3 separate regions of the Homo sapiens genome follow, and regions 1 and 3 are each linked to region 2. The links come from fine-mapping of genetic effects on gene expression. A gene starts in region 2. Each other region holds a variant in brackets. All regions are shown on one strand. Distances are from middle to middle. Region 1 has its middle 54 kb from the start of EEF2KMT. Region 2 holds the start of SEC14L5 (SEC14 like lipid binding 5). Region 3 overlaps C16orf89 (chromosome 16 open reading frame 89).

What was found.
Region 1: its variant is fine-mapped to the expression of SEC14L5 in whole blood (INTERVAL, PIP 0.91).
Region 3: its variant is fine-mapped to the expression of SEC14L5 in sun-exposed skin (GTEx, PIP 0.92).

Annotation. Positions count from the first base shown.
Region 1 is chr16:5,149,039-5,154,559 of GRCh38, forward strand. No RefSeq gene overlaps it. Among named protein-coding and RNA genes, the nearest start is that of EEF2KMT, 54 kb to the left of the region's middle. The variant CTTTTTTT/C (reference allele first, on the strand shown) is at 3,015.
Region 2 is chr16:4,955,453-4,960,973 of GRCh38, forward strand. It overlaps SEC14L5 (SEC14 like lipid binding 5), which reads left to right and starts at 2,878. Exons shown (of 16, transcript NM_014692.2): 1 at 2,878-2,993; 2 at 3,821-3,934. The coding sequence starts at 3,872. RefSeq lists silencers at 2,763-2,972, 2,771-3,066 and an enhancer at 2,870-3,405.
Region 3 is chr16:5,039,368-5,044,651 of GRCh38, forward strand. C16orf89 (chromosome 16 open reading frame 89) reads right to left here. Exons shown (of 8, transcript NM_001098514.3): 8 at 4,755-5,111. The coding sequence ends at 4,981. NAGPA-AS1 (NAGPA antisense RNA 1) reads left to right here. Exons shown (of 2, transcript NR_038913.1): 2 at 2,728-3,604. Among named protein-coding and RNA genes, the nearest start is that of NAGPA, 8.1 kb to the left of the region's middle. The variant CG/C (reference allele first, on the strand shown) is at 2,413.

The DNA.
Region 1 (5,521 bases), 190 kb after region 2:
GAGGTCAGGAGTTCGAGACCAGCCTGGCCAGCATGGAGAAACCCCATCTCTACTAAAAATGCAAAAATTAGCCGGGCGTGGTGGTACATATCTGTAATCCCAGCTATTCTGGAGGCTGAGGCAGGAGAGTTGCTTGAACCCGGGAGGCGGAGGTTGCAGTGAGCCGAGATTGTGCCACTGCACTCCAACCTGGACGACGGAATGAGACTCCGTCTCAAAAAAAAAAAAAAAAAAAAAAAATCCTTGTGAAATATTTTGGACTCTTATACTAATTCCAACATTTTGAAGATCTGGGGAGAACAAACTAGATTGGTGCTTTCCTTGGCTTAGTATGTCCTGTTTTTATAGGGAGAGCAAATTATTGTTCACCAGCACTATTAAAGTGGCTACAACAGGATGGGCACGGTGGCTCACACCTGTAATCCCAGCACTTTGGGAAGCTGAGGTGGGAAGATCGTTTGAGCCCAGGAGTTCGAGACCAGCCTGGGCAACATGGTGAGACCCTGTCACTACCAAAAATACAACAACAACAAAAATAGCTAGGTGTGATTGTGTGCACCTGTAGTCCCAGCTACTTGAGAGGCTGAGGTGGGGGGATCACTTGAGCCCAGGGGATTGAGGCTGCAGTAAGCCGTGATTATGCCACTGTACTCAGCCTGGGTGACAGAGTGAGACCCTGTCTCAAAAAAAAAAAAAAAAAAAAAAAAAAACTGCAGTGGACTCAGTGATCATGAGGCCAGGCACTGTACACATGTACATCATCTCATTTAATTTTTCCTCTTGTTTAAAATTATTTTTTCCTCTAATCCCCATGTTGATCAACATTTTTTTAATCCTAGGAATTTATTACTTGAAAATTTCGCATAAGAATTAAAAATTGCCTGGCGCGATGGCTTACATCTGTTATCCCAGCACTTTGGGAGGCTGAGATGAGAGAATCGCTTGAAGCCAGGAGTTTGGGCCAGTCTGGGCAATATACTGAGAATGCAACTCTATAAAAAAATTAAAAACCCTGGGTGTGGTAGCGTTCACCTGTAGTCCCAGCTACTTGGAAGACTAGGTGGGAGGATTGCTTGAGCCCAGGTGGTAAAGGCAGCAGTGAGCTATGATTGTGCCATTGCACTGCAGCCTGGGTGACGGAGTGAGACTCTGTCTCTAAAATAAATGAATAAAATTGTGGTATAATATATGCAACATTTACCATTTTGTACAGCTGTAAGTGTACAATTCAGTGACATTCTGTACAATTATCATGTTGTGCAATTATCACTACTTCCTAGTTTCAGAGCTTTTTCAACACCTCAATTGGAAGCCTCATACCCGATTCAGCAGTCACTCTGCATACCCCCTCCTGCAGCCCCTGGAAACCTCTCATCTACTTTCTGTCTCTGTTGATTGGCTTAGTCTGAGCATTGCATATAAATGAAATTGTACAATATATGACCTTTCATGTCTGCTTCGTTCAGTGAGCAGGTATTTAACGTTCATATCACACCATGGATAAGTTTTATTTTCTTTTTAGACCCTAACTAAAAAGAAAAAAATTGTAAAAAACAAAAACAAAAACAAAAAAAGAATATAGGATGGAGATCAGATGAGTCCTGCAAAGCTGATAATATTTACTGTCTAGCACTTTACATAGAAGCTTGCCTACCTCTGAATGATATGCAGGTACAGGGATGACATTTATCTTGGCACTTATAGAAAGACCTGTACGTTGTATAAAGATGTCATCATTGGATTTCTAGTAACAAGAAGCGGCAAGACATGACGGTGTGTCCAGGTGTTCAGGTGAAGTTTAGGGAAGGTCTTGTCTTGACGAGGTCGGATGTGAGACCCAGATGAGATAACCCCATTTCCCCTGCTGAAATTGCCTGAGAATTTCTTCCAGCTATTTGTGTGGGTAGATTCTTTCGGTGGGGGTGGGGTGGGTGAGGAGGTGAAGTGTCAGGGGAGTTCTATTGTGTATTTGCACAACTTGGCTTTCTTTTCACTTGGTGTGGTGTTTTGCTGTATGAGGAATTTCGTAGAATTTTGTGATGAGTATGCAGCGTAGTGGTTTGAATCCTGCCAGGCCGAGGGTCATATGTCAGCTCTGCAACTCATTATCTGTGACGCCTTGGGGCAGGTCCGATCACTCTCCAAGCTTCTGTTATATATTCCATGGGGTTGTGAGGTTCAGATGAAATAATGCATGCTGGCAGGAATGGTTACTGCTCATGGGATTTCCATGTGCTCCCCGTATTCCCCAGATCTCCAATAGTTAGATGGATCCATGCCAGGGTCCAATGCTCTATAAGTGGAAGTCACTGACATCACCTCTAGTGTACAGCTTTTGAGGGCTTGGGAATAACTATCTCATTCTCTCATCTCCTGGTGCAGTAACTATGGGAGAATCCCTGCATTAAGATGGTAGAATTTCCATCATTCTAGGTCTTTGAGGGGCCATATGGAGGACACCATACCCAGCCAACCCATTGTGGACATGGTATGTAAGAAATCAACCTTGGTTGCTAAGCTGCTGAGACTCTGGGGTTAATTTGTTACTGCAGCATAACGTAGTCCATCCTGACACATGCAGCATGCAAACCACTTACGTTGTCCCTTAGTCATGGTAAGTGCTCCACAGATGTTGGTTACTTTTGGTAGGAAGATAGATTGCCTCTGAAAGTTTTGTTAGCTGATCTCATGATGCCAATGTTGCTATTTTGTAATTGGATAAATTGGACTTGGCTCTCCTTCCAGCATGTGGGAGAGACAGATGACTGAGAGACAATAAAGCACTATTATCTTCAGTTTGTGTCCTTGGATACCCTTGGTGGCAATGAACAATGTATGCTCCTCTGAGAAAACTGGACCTAAAGGAGAATGGGAGGTGATACCAGAATTGGGAATGTCCAAGGCCCCAGGCATTCCCTGGTCTGGAGACCACTTTGAGTCCTTGGTGGGAAGATTCTCAAAGGGAACATAAATGCTTTTACTATCTAGTTTGTCTCTTTGAGAATTAAAACTCT[CTTTTTTT/C]TTTTTTTTCCTTCCAGTAGCTTTTGGGGTAGAGTTTGGCTCTTTGAGAATTGCACACTAATTAATTTTAGGGGTCATGCGTACACATCTCTATATTCCTGAAACAGTAGAAACAGCCAGCAGTCAGGCAACCATCTACCATGACCACTAAAACATCCTCAAAGTGAAACACCAGATGTGATCCGCTAGGTTTAGTGGACGTGGCTGGCTCGAGAGTTGATTATATTCATTATCGTCACTGTGGTGATTGTGGCCACAACATTGTGATGCGTCTTGGTCTTCTTTTGGTGAGTTGCAGTTTGAAAGGAATAAATCCATTATTCTTTTTTTTTTTTTTTTTTTTTTTTTTTTGAGTCTCGCTCTGTTGCCCAGGCTGGAGTGCAGTGGTGCCATCTCAGCATACTGTAAACTCCGCCTCCCAGATTCAAGTGATTCTCCTGCCTCAGCCTGCCAAGTAGCTGGGATTACAGGCGCCAACCACCACACCTGGCTAATTTTTATATTTTTAGTAGAGACGGGGTTTTGCCATGTTGTCCGGGCTGATCTTGAACTCCTGACCTCAGGTGATCCACCTGCCTCAGCCTCCCAAAGTGGTGGGATTACAGGCGTGAGCCACCATGCCTGGCCCCATTATTCATTTAACCAATATCTATTGAGCACGTTCGGTGTGGTGGAGGATGGACTGCAGGGGAGGGAGGAAGCCTCGTCCTGCCACTATGTTTTCAAGTTGTCCTAATACTCCACCATGGGACACACAGGCTTGTGGGTCCCAGAGCTCCAGAAGCATCTCCCAACCATACCATCCTGACCCAGATTCTACCAAAGAATACGTGAGTCTAGCAGAGCCATCTCTGACACTTCCCTTCTTTTGAATGGCTGATCTGTCAGTCATGGGGATCCCTTATGAAAGTGCAGTGTGCTTTGTGAAACTTGAGGTTGATCAAAGAATACCAATAAACTTTGTTAAGAAATCTACATATTGATGACATAGGCAGTGGGGTAGAGGTGGGGAAATTCCCAAATACATTTTAGAAATTATCTCAGAGGGAGGTAATAGTCAGAACTCTTGGTTGCCAGTGACAGAAACTCATCTTACTAGTGTGGAGTGGAAAAGGGATCATGTTTTGGTCTGCACTCCCCAACCCCAACCCCAAGCAGATCCTGAAAGAGGGACAGGATTGCAAGTGGATTATTTAGGAGATGATTCTAGGGAACACCAAAAGGGGAGTGAGGAACTGATTCATGGAAAGGCAGGAGGCCACAGAGGGGGCTTTAATGAGCAGCTTACCATTCCAGGCAACTAGGATTTGACCCCACTGGGGACCTCGGGGAGGTGATGTGGAATACATTTCAAAGTTGTTCCATCCAGGGGGCAAAGATACTGAAGCATTTATAGCCTGGCTCCCATCTGTCACTGGCTGAGGAGTGGTCCCAGGGCATCAACTTTCTGGCTTTTCTTTTTTCTTTTTTTTTTTTTTTTTTGAGACATAGTCTTGCTCTGTCACCCAGGCTGGACTGCAATGGCATGATCTCGGCTCACTGCAACATCTGCCTCCCAGGTTCAAACGATTCTCTTGCCTCAGTTTCCTGAGTAGCTGGGATTACAGGCGCCTGCCACCCTGCCCCGCTAATTTTTTTATTTTTTGTAGAGACGGGGTTTTGCCATGTTGGTCAGGCTGGTCTCGAACTCCTGACCTCGTGATCCACTTGCCTCGGCCTCCCAGTGTTGGGATTACAGGCGTGAGCCACTGCGCCCGGCTTCTGTGGCTTTTCTGACATACTCCATGCCTAACTTTGAGAAGGCCCTCAGGTGAAAGTCTTGGTTGTATGCAGTAGCAAGCATGTACTAGAATGATAAAAACCAGGGGGCTTACCACAAGATCTCTCTCTCCATCTCTGGATGGAGACACCATCAGATCTCTCTCTCCATCTCTGTTTCTAGCTTTGTCTGCATACTGGCTTAATTTCTTCTTACTCAAGCCTTTTCTCCATAAGGCAAGAAATGTGGCCACAAAAGCTCCTGTATTTCTCACTACACACAGTTCCTGTCATCACAGAGAATGATTAACTTGGTCTAGTGCCAGTTTGGAAAAATATTCAAGGGAAGAATTCTGATTGGCCAATTTAGGCCAGATGCTCATCCCTGGACCAATCAACTGAGGCCAGAGGGGTGGAGTCATGTGAGAACATGGCAGCCCCCATGACAGCCAAGTGACTGGAGTAGGAAGTGTGAGTCTCCATAGAGGGGAGGGCTGCTAGGCTGAAAAAGCAATAGATGTCCGCAGTGAAAGGAATAGATTAGGAGACACATTCTGTTAAACCTGTTAATTATTAAAAAAAAAACTTTCAATATACAGTTACAGTATACGTGAGCCGGTGGCTCACGCCTATAATCCCAGCACTTTAGGAGGCCGAGGTGGGCAGATCAGAGGTCAGGAGTTCAAGACCAACCTGACCAACATGGTGAAACCCTGTCTCTACTAAAGAAAATACAAAAATT
Region 2 (5,521 bases):
AATTCAGTGGCATGTGCATTTGCAACGTTGTGCAACCACCACCTCTATCACATTCCAAGACATTTTCATTGCTCTGGGGTTGCTTTGAGGATTAAATGCATTCGTGTTTGTAAAGCTTTAGAATGGTGCTAGGTATAGTAAGCGCCAATGGAGTGTCAACAAGTGGTAGGAATAATTAGTAGAACAGTAATAATAGGCAACTGGGCCAGGTGTGGTGGCTCATGTCTGTAATCCCAGCACTTTGGGTGGCTGAGGCGGGTGGATCACCTGAGGTCAGGAGTTTGAGGCCAGCCTGGCCAACATGATGAAACCTGTCTCTACTGAAAATACAAAAATTAGCCAGGTGTGGTGGCAAGCGCCTGTAATCCCAGCTACTCGGGAGGCTGAGGCAGGAGAATTGCTTGAACCTGGGAGGCGGAGGTTGTAGTGAGCCGAGACTGCGCCACTGCACTCCAGCCTGGGCAACAGAGCAAGACTCCACGTAAAAAAAAAACCCCAAAACCCAAAAAAAGCTGGAGTGAGTGTTGGTGGCGTTATTAATTCCCTTCCCTGGGGCTGGAGGAGGAGGGAGTGGGGTTCTCACTCCCCTCCAGGCCCCAGTTTCCACTTTGAGCTCTCTGTACCCGCAGGGCTGTCACACCTCTGTCTCCCACGCAGTCATTGTCCTCCCTCAATGTTGGGCAGCAGGAGAGGCGGACTTAACGCCTTTCGTGGTGGTAACAGCAGCTAACGGTGTTAACGTTCACTTTGCTCTGTGGCGATGCCTGGGCAGAGCTGGGCATTTCCTGGATGAGCCCGGGTTAGGACAGTCATCCCTGGATCCCATGTCCCCCACCTACTCACCCTTGTGTTACTCCAGGAGCCATGGGCTATCATTTGCTGCCACCTTGCGACAGGGATGGGAACTTTGTGTCCCATTTCCGCCCTTGATTACCTAAGCCAAGAGTCTGCTGGGCACCTGCTGCCTGCCTGCCAGGTCCCCAGTAAGATCCTTCCCAACATGCGGGCAGCTGAATAAGGCAGCCACTGCCCCTGCCCTCAGGGAGCTCACAGTCTCCTGAGAGAGACCTCCAGGAACCCACAGATATATAAAACGAATAAATGCAATATTAGAATGTGATGCAGGCTAGGAAGGGAAGAGAGGTGATTTTCACAGGGTGCAGTGACATACTTGAAATATATCAGGGGTTGTCCATCTCCCTGGCCACCTCTGACTTCCCCTGCTTGAAGGGGTGAATTCACCCCACGGTGGCACGTAGTAGGTGCTCAGTAAATGTTGAATGAGTGAATACATGGATGACAGCACTGTCCAGAGCCAATTTCTTGGGTCTTGTAGGCTAAACAGATGAGGAGTGGCAAGGCAGGACTTCTGGGAGCAAGGTTGGTCCCCTGGGAGTCCTGGGAGGGCTGAAAGGGGTTAAGTGTGAGTTAAAATGAGAGTGATGGACAAATGTCACTCTCCCAAGGGAGGCCCCCTTACTCCCTGTTTTATTTATTTATTTACTTATTTATTTTGAGACCGAGTCTTGCTTTGTTGCCCAGGCTGGAGTGCAGTGGCCAGGTAACAGCTCACTGCAGCTTTGAACTTCTGGGCTCAAGGGATCCTCCTGCCTCAGCCTCTTGAGTAGCTGGGACCACAGGCACGTGCCAACACGCCTGGCTAATTTTTTTTTTTTTTTTTTGCGACGGAGCTTTGTTCTTCTTGCCCAGGCTGGAGTGCAGTGGCGCAGTCTCGGCTCACTGCAACCTCCGCCTCCTTGATTCAAGCGATTCTCCTGCCTCAGCCTCCCGAGTAGCTGAGATTACAGGTATACGCCACCATGCCCGGCTAATTTTGTATTTTAGTAGAGACGGGGTTTCCTCATATTGGCCATGCTGTTCTCGAACTCCTGACCTCAGCTGATCTGCCTGCCTTGGCCTCTCAGTGTGCTGGGATTACAGGCGTGAGCCACCGCGCCCTGCCTAAACTAAAAAAAAATTTTTTTGTAGAGATAGGTTCTTGCTATGTTACCCAGGGTGGTCTCCAACTCCTGGGTTCAAGCGGTCCTCCCGCTTCCGCCTCCTAAAGTGTTTGGATTACAGGCGTGAGACATGGCGCCCGGCCTCTTACCTGTTTTAAATTGTCCTTTCTCTCCGCTGGCTCCTTGAGCCCCTTTCCTGCTTATTTTTCTCTCGTTAGAGTTTTTCACTACCTCACACATCATATATTTGCCTTATTTATTGAGTGTCTGTCTCCCCACCGTAGTATAAACTCCACGAGGGCAGGGATTCGTGCGTGTGGCTCACCGGCGGCTCTCCAGCGCCTGGACAGGGCTGACCCCCAGCAGGCGCTCTGTGAAGGTGTGCAGAGTGGGCGAAGGTGCATGCGCGGGCCGTGGGGCGGGGACAGGTGGAGGAGCCAGTCAGACCCAAGTGCAGCGGGACGAGGGCGAGGTTAATCTGAGCAAGAAAAGCGTAAATTCTGCTTATCTACAAATGTAAACAGTACTGTCGGCCAGACGCAGGGTCCGGGGCGGGTCGGCCCGGACTCAGGGTCTGCTTGGAGGCAGAGCTAGATTAGGGCGGGGTCGTCCTGTGGCCTACCATTCCCCGAGGCTGAGGGCCTTGGAGGGCGGGGCCAGTGAAGGGGGAGGGGACTTCCTGAGGTGTGACCAATCTAGAGAAAGGACTGGGCTGAGGGCGTGGTCAAACAAGCGACATCTAAAAATAAGGGGCGGGGCTAGAACCAGGGGGAGTTCGCCTGGGGCGGGGCCAGAGTGGGGCGGGACCAGTTAGGGGGCAGGGCCAACCTGGGCGGGGCCATGGCCGGGGACGTGGGCGGGACCAGGTCAGGGGCGGGGCCAGGCCAGGATCTCCGCTGTCCCGGGTCCTGGAGCTCTCTCGGCCCGGCAGGTTTCGCTCCCGCCCCTCCGGCCTTCCACAGCTGTCCTGGCCGCAGGGTGTTCAAGGCGGGACACACCAGGCTAGAGATCCGCGATCGGGCCCCGCCTCAGGTACTGCGCTCCAGGCCAGGCGGGCGCGGGTAAGCGCTCAGCTCCCGAGCCAGGCGGGCTTCCAGGGCACTTCCCCTAGGCTGCATTCCCAAAGGCTCCCGAGGGCGAGGGTGAGCAAAGCTGCGGGGACCTGTGTGTGCATGCGTGTGCGATTGCCTCTACGTGTGTGTACGTGTGTGTGCATGTGCGCACGGGTGTGTGTGCGTGTGTGCACGTCTGTGCACACCAGGGGAATTGCGTGCGTGGAGCTGGGCAGGTGCGTGTTTCAGGGTGTGTGTGCAAAGTTGGAGGCGTGTGCAAAAGCAGTCCCGTGTGGGAGGGAAACCTGCGTGTGTACATGTGTGTGATAGAGACAGTGCCTGTGAAATGTGGTGAAGGCTGTGTGTGTATGTCAGGGTGTCTGGGAGGAAAATGGGAGGGCAGGTGCAAGGAGACTCGGGGGTGGGCTGTAGGCCAGCAAGTCTGTGGCAAGCTGCGGGGTGCATGCGTGAATAGAACCGTGGGAGTGTAAGAATTGCAAATGTGTGTGTGTCTGTGTGGGTGGCCGTAAGGCTTCTGGGGGCCCTCAGTGTGAAGGGGTGGGGGTAGAGGAAAGTTTGGGGGTGCTGACTGCTCTTGGAAGGCTGAGCGTGGTCTGGGGCCATGGCTAATGACAGGGAAGCTGTTGGGGCTTGGCCTGGAGTAATTTGGGGGGAATATCAGCCTTCTCAATTTGAAGGCTGGGGAGCTGTGTGGGTGGGGCCAGGGGCTGCCCCTTACACTTGGTGGGTGGTGTCCCTGCTTCCCGAGGTGGGAGCTGCAACCTCACCAGTCACTCCTCGCCCCAGGCTCTGTGCACACCCCTGCCTGGTGACCTCCATTGGTGCTCCAGCGTGAACATGGTGCAAAGATACCAGTCTCCTGTCCGAGTCTACAAGTACCCGTTTGAGCTGGTCATGGCGGTGAGTGACTCCTGATTCTTGGGCCCCCATGTGACAGTTGGAGGGGCTTGAGATCAGCTATGGCGGTAGGAAGACGGAGCTCCTTAGACTCCCAGATCAGAAGGAATTAGTGAGTTACTCAGCTGACCTGGTGGGTTTAACTTCTATCCAGTGACCTCTCTGTCCAACCATCCTATCCTCGGCCCAGTGACCAAAACACAAAGTCTTTCTTCCTTCTCCTTGTTGAAGCTGACCTGCTCCCTTACTTTAGACTCTCCTGATAGAAAACAAAGGTATCAGGGGCCAAGCCACTGCTGTCATTTCATATAATGGCATATCACAGTGATAAATGGAATGGTGGTGATAATGACAACAGCTGTTTATTGAATGTTTACAGCACTGTCTTAACAGATGATGTTTCTTCCAATTCCCGATAGCTGTTATTTTCCCATGTAACCTCCATGAAACTGAGGCTTTGACAGGTGAAGGGATGACACTAAGTTCTGTATCTACGCAGAGGTGGAGTCGGGGCTGAGATCCCCACAAAGGAGACTCTAGAACCTCACATTTGACCACAGAGCCCTCCTTCTGCTCACAGACCCCCTTCCCTCCCCTTTAAGGAAGCTGACACTGGGACGAGAGAGAGAATGAGTGGGTAGGTTTGCTTTGTGATGTACTCTGTGTTGTGCAGCAAGTCAGTTGGAGGCCTAGAATTGGCTGCCAGATCCTTGGCCCCCAGGATCACTGGTCTTTTCACCCTGGGGGCAGAAGCTGGACATAGGTGGATGTGGAATTCCTTCTTGGCTGCATCCCTCTGCCTCTGAGCACTTCACTTCCCTGCTCAGTAACATGGGGACAATGCTACAAGGTTGCGGGGAGGAGTAAATGAGATAGTTCTTGGTGCTCCTTGCTGTGTGCCGGGCACACAGTAGGAGCTCACAAAATATGCTGTCGCTGTTATTACACCGAAGTCTTGTAAATTAATGTATTGAAAGTGTAAGAAACATTAGCATCCACCCCCATCTGTCCCACCCCAGCACTGACTGCTTAACCCCAGCCTTCTATCCAGGGACTTTCATATCTCTTGGTGGCTGTGTGTGCCTGTGTGTCCAGTCCTGTCTTATTCTATGAATCTACATGCGTATATGTTTATTGTCACACAGAGGATTTAAAAGCATCACCAAAATCATCCACATACCTTGTGCTGTTACAGGCAGATGGTTCTAGGACAGCAAAGAGGCAGGAACTGGCTTAGGGTCATATTCTAGCTCCCCAATTGACGAGCTGAGTGACTGTGGGGCAAGTCACTTCACCTCCATGAGCCTCCACTCCCCATCACCAATGGGAATCTCCTGGCTTCCAAATCCTGGTGTCATGCTGTGGATTAAATGAGTCAATGTGTATAAAGCTCCTGGTACGGGGCTGACGCAGATCAAATGCTCACTGAGATCCAGCTATGATCGTTACTGTTTTTGCAAGTGCCTGAGTGACTTTGCTTCTGCGTAATGGGAGTGGAACACCAGGGGATGGTGAAGAGATCCAGGGACGTGAATTCAGATGCTTTAGGGTTCTGCTGTGCTCTGCCATGCTCTGGTTGTATGTTTTTAG
Region 3 (5,284 bases), 84 kb after region 2:
GAGGTTGCAGTGAGCCCAGATCGCACCACTGCACTTCAGCCTGGGGGACAGAGCAAGACTCTGTTTCAAATAAACAAACAAACAAAAAAACCCCCAAAATTAGCCGGGTGTGGTGGCGCGTGCCTGTAATTCCAGCTACTCAGGAGGCTGAGGCACAAGAATTGCTTGAACCCAGCAGGCGGAGGTTGCGGTGAGCCGAGATCGCACCACCACTGCACTCCAGCCTCAAAAAAAAAAAAAAAGTTACAGTGGAATTTGGGAACTCGGGTGGGGAAGAATGGGAAGGAGGTGAGGGATAAAAGACTATAAATTGGTTTCAGTGTATACTGCTCAGGTCCTGGGTGTACCAAAATCTCTCAAATCACCACTCACGTAACCAAATACCACCTATTCCCCAAAAATCTATGGAAATAAAAAATGAGAAAGAAAGAGAATAGGTGAAGACCCAGAAAAAGCAAGGATACTGGTGGGACATTGCCCAAGTCAGTCTTCCTGGCTCTGGTGGGTGAGGGGGCAGAAGCTTAGCCACTGAGAGATGGGAGTGGGGAAGCAGTCATGAAAGGGTGGCTTGAACTCGCCCCAGCTCTCACCAATCCCTTCCCCGCCCTCTCTTGCTCTCTCAGACCTCATTCCAAGCAACAGTTCTGCAGATACTGTTCTCACAACTCCTTCACACTAAAGCTACATGATGGAGAAAGTCTTAACTCATTCCGTTTCCTGTGTATATTTACATCTTAAGAGGAAACACTTTCAACCAGGCATGGTGGCTCATGGCTGTAATCCCAGCAGAGGCAGGAGGATTGCTTGAGCCCAGGAGTTCCAGGCCAGCCTGGGCAACACACCAAGACCCCCGTCTCTTTAAAAAAAAAAAAAAAAAAAAAAGGGCCAGGCATGCTGGTTCATGCCTATAATCTCGGCTCTTTGGGACGCCAAGGCGGGTGGATCACCTGAGGTCAGGAGTTCGAGACCAGCCTGGCCAACATGGGGAAACACTGTCTCTACTAAAAATACAAAAATTAGCCGGGTGTGGTGGCACGTGCCTGTAATCCTAGCTACTCAAGAGGCTGAGGCAGGAGAACCGCTTGAACCCAGGAGGTGGCGGTTGTAGTGATCTGAGATTATGCTACTGCACTCCAGCGTGGGTGACAGAGTCAGATCCTGTCTCAAAAAAAAAAAGGAAAAACTTTAAGAACATGATGACTTAATGGAATTACTTGTTTACAGTAGGATTTTATACCTTGAGCCGGGAGCCGGAAGGAATGCACTTTTGACCAAGGATTGTGGCAGGGGCACATAGAGCCACCGTGGGCTGGGTGCTTCCACCAATGAGGGCCTCTCTCTCGGGGTGTGTATTTGGGGGGCAGGGAAAGAAGGCCTTGATGAAGCCCTGAGGTGGGGTTTGTGCCGGGGGAACCTGCTTTTCCATCCCTCTCTCATTTAACTCCAAGTCCCAAGCCTCCTTTCCTCCCTGTCTTCCTCCCACCCGCTCCAAACAATCTGCCTGTGACTGGTTTTTCTGCTCTCTGTGCTACTTGAACAGGAGGCTGTCAGGAGCTGTTCTGCTCCAACGAGGAGAACCATTGACTCATTTGTGGGTGCTCCTTGTCTTGACCTCGAGTTTTGTTTCAAGCCCTTTGGAGGGTTCCCTCTTTTTTTCTTTTGAGACAAGTTCTCGCACTGTCACCCAGGCTGGGATGCAATGGCATGATCATAGCTCACTGCAGCCTCAATCTCCCAAGTCTCAAGTGATCCTCCTGCCTCAGCCTCCCAAGTAGCTGGGACCACAGGCACGGGTCACCATGCCCAGCTGATTTTTGTGTTTTTTTGTGGAGATGGATTTTTCTCATGTTGCCCAGGCAGGTCTCCGAATCCTGAGCTCAGGCAATCCGCCCACCTCGGTCTCCCAAAGTGCTGGGATTCTAGGCATGAGCCACTGCGCCTGGTCATATGAGAGGGCATTTGAGCAGAGACTGGGGCAAAGTGGAGTGTGAGCCACGTGGATGTCAGGGGAAAAGTATTCAGAAAGATAGGAGAGCCTTGCAAGGGACGTGAACTCCATGTGGGCTGGATGTGTGTGCTGAGTGGATAAATTCCAGGGAGTTTTTGGGCTACAGTTGGGCTGTGGCATGCCACTGAGAAAGTTCTTTTTGTGTTTGTTTGTTTTTGCTTTTTTGAGATGGAGTCTTGCTCTGTCACCCAGGCTGGAGTGCAGTGGCATGATCTTCCCTCACGGCAGTCTCTGCCTCCCAGGTGCAAGCGATTCTCCTGCTTCAGTTTCCCTAGTAGCTGGGATTACAGGCGAGAGCCACCACGCATGGCTAATTTTTGTATTTTCAGTAGAGATGGGGTTTCACCATGTTAGCCAGGCTGGTCTTGAACTTCTGACCTCAAGAGATCCGCCCACCTTGAGAA[CG/C]TTTTTTTTAATTTTCGGTTTCACATCGATCCTTTAAATAGAGGATCAGGCTGTGAACCAGGTCATCAGGACGGGTCATCTGCTTCCCCACGGGTGTGGTTGGGCTGCAGGGACCTTGTTGCTGAGACTAGGAACAGCTCCTTGAGGCAGGTGCTGCATTAGTTTCTGGGGCTGCTGTAGCAAGGTGCCATCAACTGGGAGGCTTAAACCACAGAAATGTATGGTCTCACCGTTCAGGAGTGCTGGGATTATAGGCATGAGCCAAGGATTGCCTTTCCTTGAAAGTGACTCATACGCTCCGCTTTCCTCCACAGTCATTTCACCCTCTCCCTGGTTTGGTAACTGAAGCCTTCTGAAATGAACCAGTGTCAGGCTCCAGTGAGGACTCCATCCCCAATTCAGGAAGCACAGAGGTGGAGCATAATCCCCCCAATTTGTTTATGTGCGGCTGACTTCTCTCAAGATGGTGTGCCTGTTTGGGAAAACTTTTGTTTGCAAGACAATGTGAAAGAAATCCTTAAAGCTCACAGACTGCTGGGTGGATATGACATTCTGGCCCTTGGTTCCCCCAAGAAAACAGCAACTTGCAGATAGCAAGTCAAACTTGTCAGCAGAATCCAGGGATGTTCCTCGAGGCCTGACAAGTTAAGAGCAATCATGGGAAGGCATTCAGAGGACCGCAGCAGAGGATCAGGTCAAGGGAAACCTACCTCCTAAAGGAAAGATCGAGAAGAACCATGCGCCCCACCACCCACCTGGGCTGCTCAGCTGGGCACAGAAGCAGCCAAGGATATTTTCATTCGGATGCTCACATATGACTGAGTTGCCACATGAGGATGATCCGTGGCGATTTTCCACCTTGAGGCAAAGCAGGACAATGCGTGTAAAGAGGTTTGCAGCCCCGGGACCGGGTTTTCAGCTGGTTTTTCTACCCCAAAGTCCAATGCGTGCAGGCTGTCATCAGCACCACAGACAGCACCAGAACCCATCATAATGTCCCAGAAGGTTTTATTGCTAAATTAGTGTCAGAGCTCCAGGGAACACATTCAGATATAGTCACACTGAGTCAGAGCTCGAGGGAAGAGCTGTAAGCTGGGAACCAGAGAACCGATGACAAGGCAGCGGCCTCTTCTGGCAGCTTCCGGAGGAGCCCCCACTTAATGGGACGTCATCACTTGAGGCAGCAGGTAACGTTTACTTGGCACTTAGTATGTTACGGGCACCATTTCCAGTATTCTAGAAACACAATACTCACAGCAGTGGAGGTAACATTGAGGTAGGGGCTGGGTTTTGTTTTTTTTTTGACTCCCACTCTGTTACCCAGGCTGGAGTGCAGTGGTGCAATCATACCTCACTGCAGCCTTGAACTCCTGGGCTCAAGTGATCCTCCCTCCTCAAGTGAGCCTCCCGAGTAGCTGGGACTACAGGTGTTCACTACTGCACCCAGTGAGGGTTGGTGGGGAGGTGTCTCGTTATGTTGCCCAGGCTGGTCTCGAACTTCTGAATCCAAGCGATCCTCCCACCTCAGCCTCCCAAAGTGCTGGGATTATAGGGGCGGGCCACTGTGCCCTTCCAAGGTAGGGGTTATTATTATCGCAATTTTACTGATGAGAAAACTGAGTCCCAGAGAAGTTGGTGACTGCTCAAGGACACAGACAGCTAGGACTTGAATTCAGGCAGCCTGGCCACAGAACCACACCATCAACCGCTATGCTATACTGTGTTTTGTAAAATGACATGATGGCCATGTGATGCAATGTAATGATACAGCAGAGTTTTGTGCTCAGGATGTAAAAATGAGTATGTGCTGCCTTTCAGGGTTATCTGTTGAGTTCTGGCTCATGACCTGAACTATTTTTTCCAAGACCCTTCCTTCTCCCACTGGGAAAGATACTATATTTGGTACCTGAACAAATAGCCTTTAAGATATCAGTTTATGGGTCTTTTTAGAATTTGTGGCTGGGTGCAGTGGCTCATGCCTGTAATCCCAGCACTTTGGGAGGACAAGGCAAGAGGATCACTTGAGGCCGGGAGTTCGAGACCAGCCAAGTCCATGTAGTGAGATCCCATCTCTACAAAAAATTTAAAAGTTAGCTTGGCATGGTGGCATACACCTGTTGTCCCAGCTACTCAGGAGGTGAGATGGGAAGATTGCTTGAGCCCAGGAGTTTGAGGCTGCAGTGAGCCTAGGTGACAGAGCAGGACCTCATCTATTAATTAAAAAAAAAAAAAAAGGAAAAAAGAAAAAAGAATTTGTGTTGAGTGGGATTGGAGAGTTGAAACAGACCAAGAGGTTGTCCAAGGTTGTCCTCAAAGCTGAGAAACAAGACTCAACCCTGGGTCAGTTGCAGTTGAACTTTATTCATCCGTTCACACCTGGGTCCCTCCCGGCCCCCACCTACCCTGGCCTTGCCTACTCAGGGCTTCCAAGATTGGGTGTCGGGGTGGCTTTGCTTATCCTCCAGATGCCTTCTTCCCAGGATGTGATCCGTGCCCTCCAGGATCTAAGGGATGAGGACTAAAGGGGTCTGTTCCTCCTCCAGGCAGCTGGCATGGAACCGTCCGTCTCAGCGGCTGCTTGGTGGTGGCGGTGTGGATGGGTGTGGCTCTCTGTTTGCTGGGGGGTATTCTGCCAGGATGTATAGGAAGCCACCCAGGGCTGCCACTGCTGTGGCTGTGTTGTGGGAGGAGCAGCCATCTAGGGGAGAGAGCCCCCATGAGTGCTGGGTGGCAAGAACCTTGGCCCTTTATTCAACACAGTCTCATTGAAAGTGCTTTTCAGCCAGACGCGGTGGCTCACACCTATAATCCCACACTTTGGGAGCCTGAGGTGGGCGGATCTCTTGAGATCAGGAGTTCGAGACCAGCATG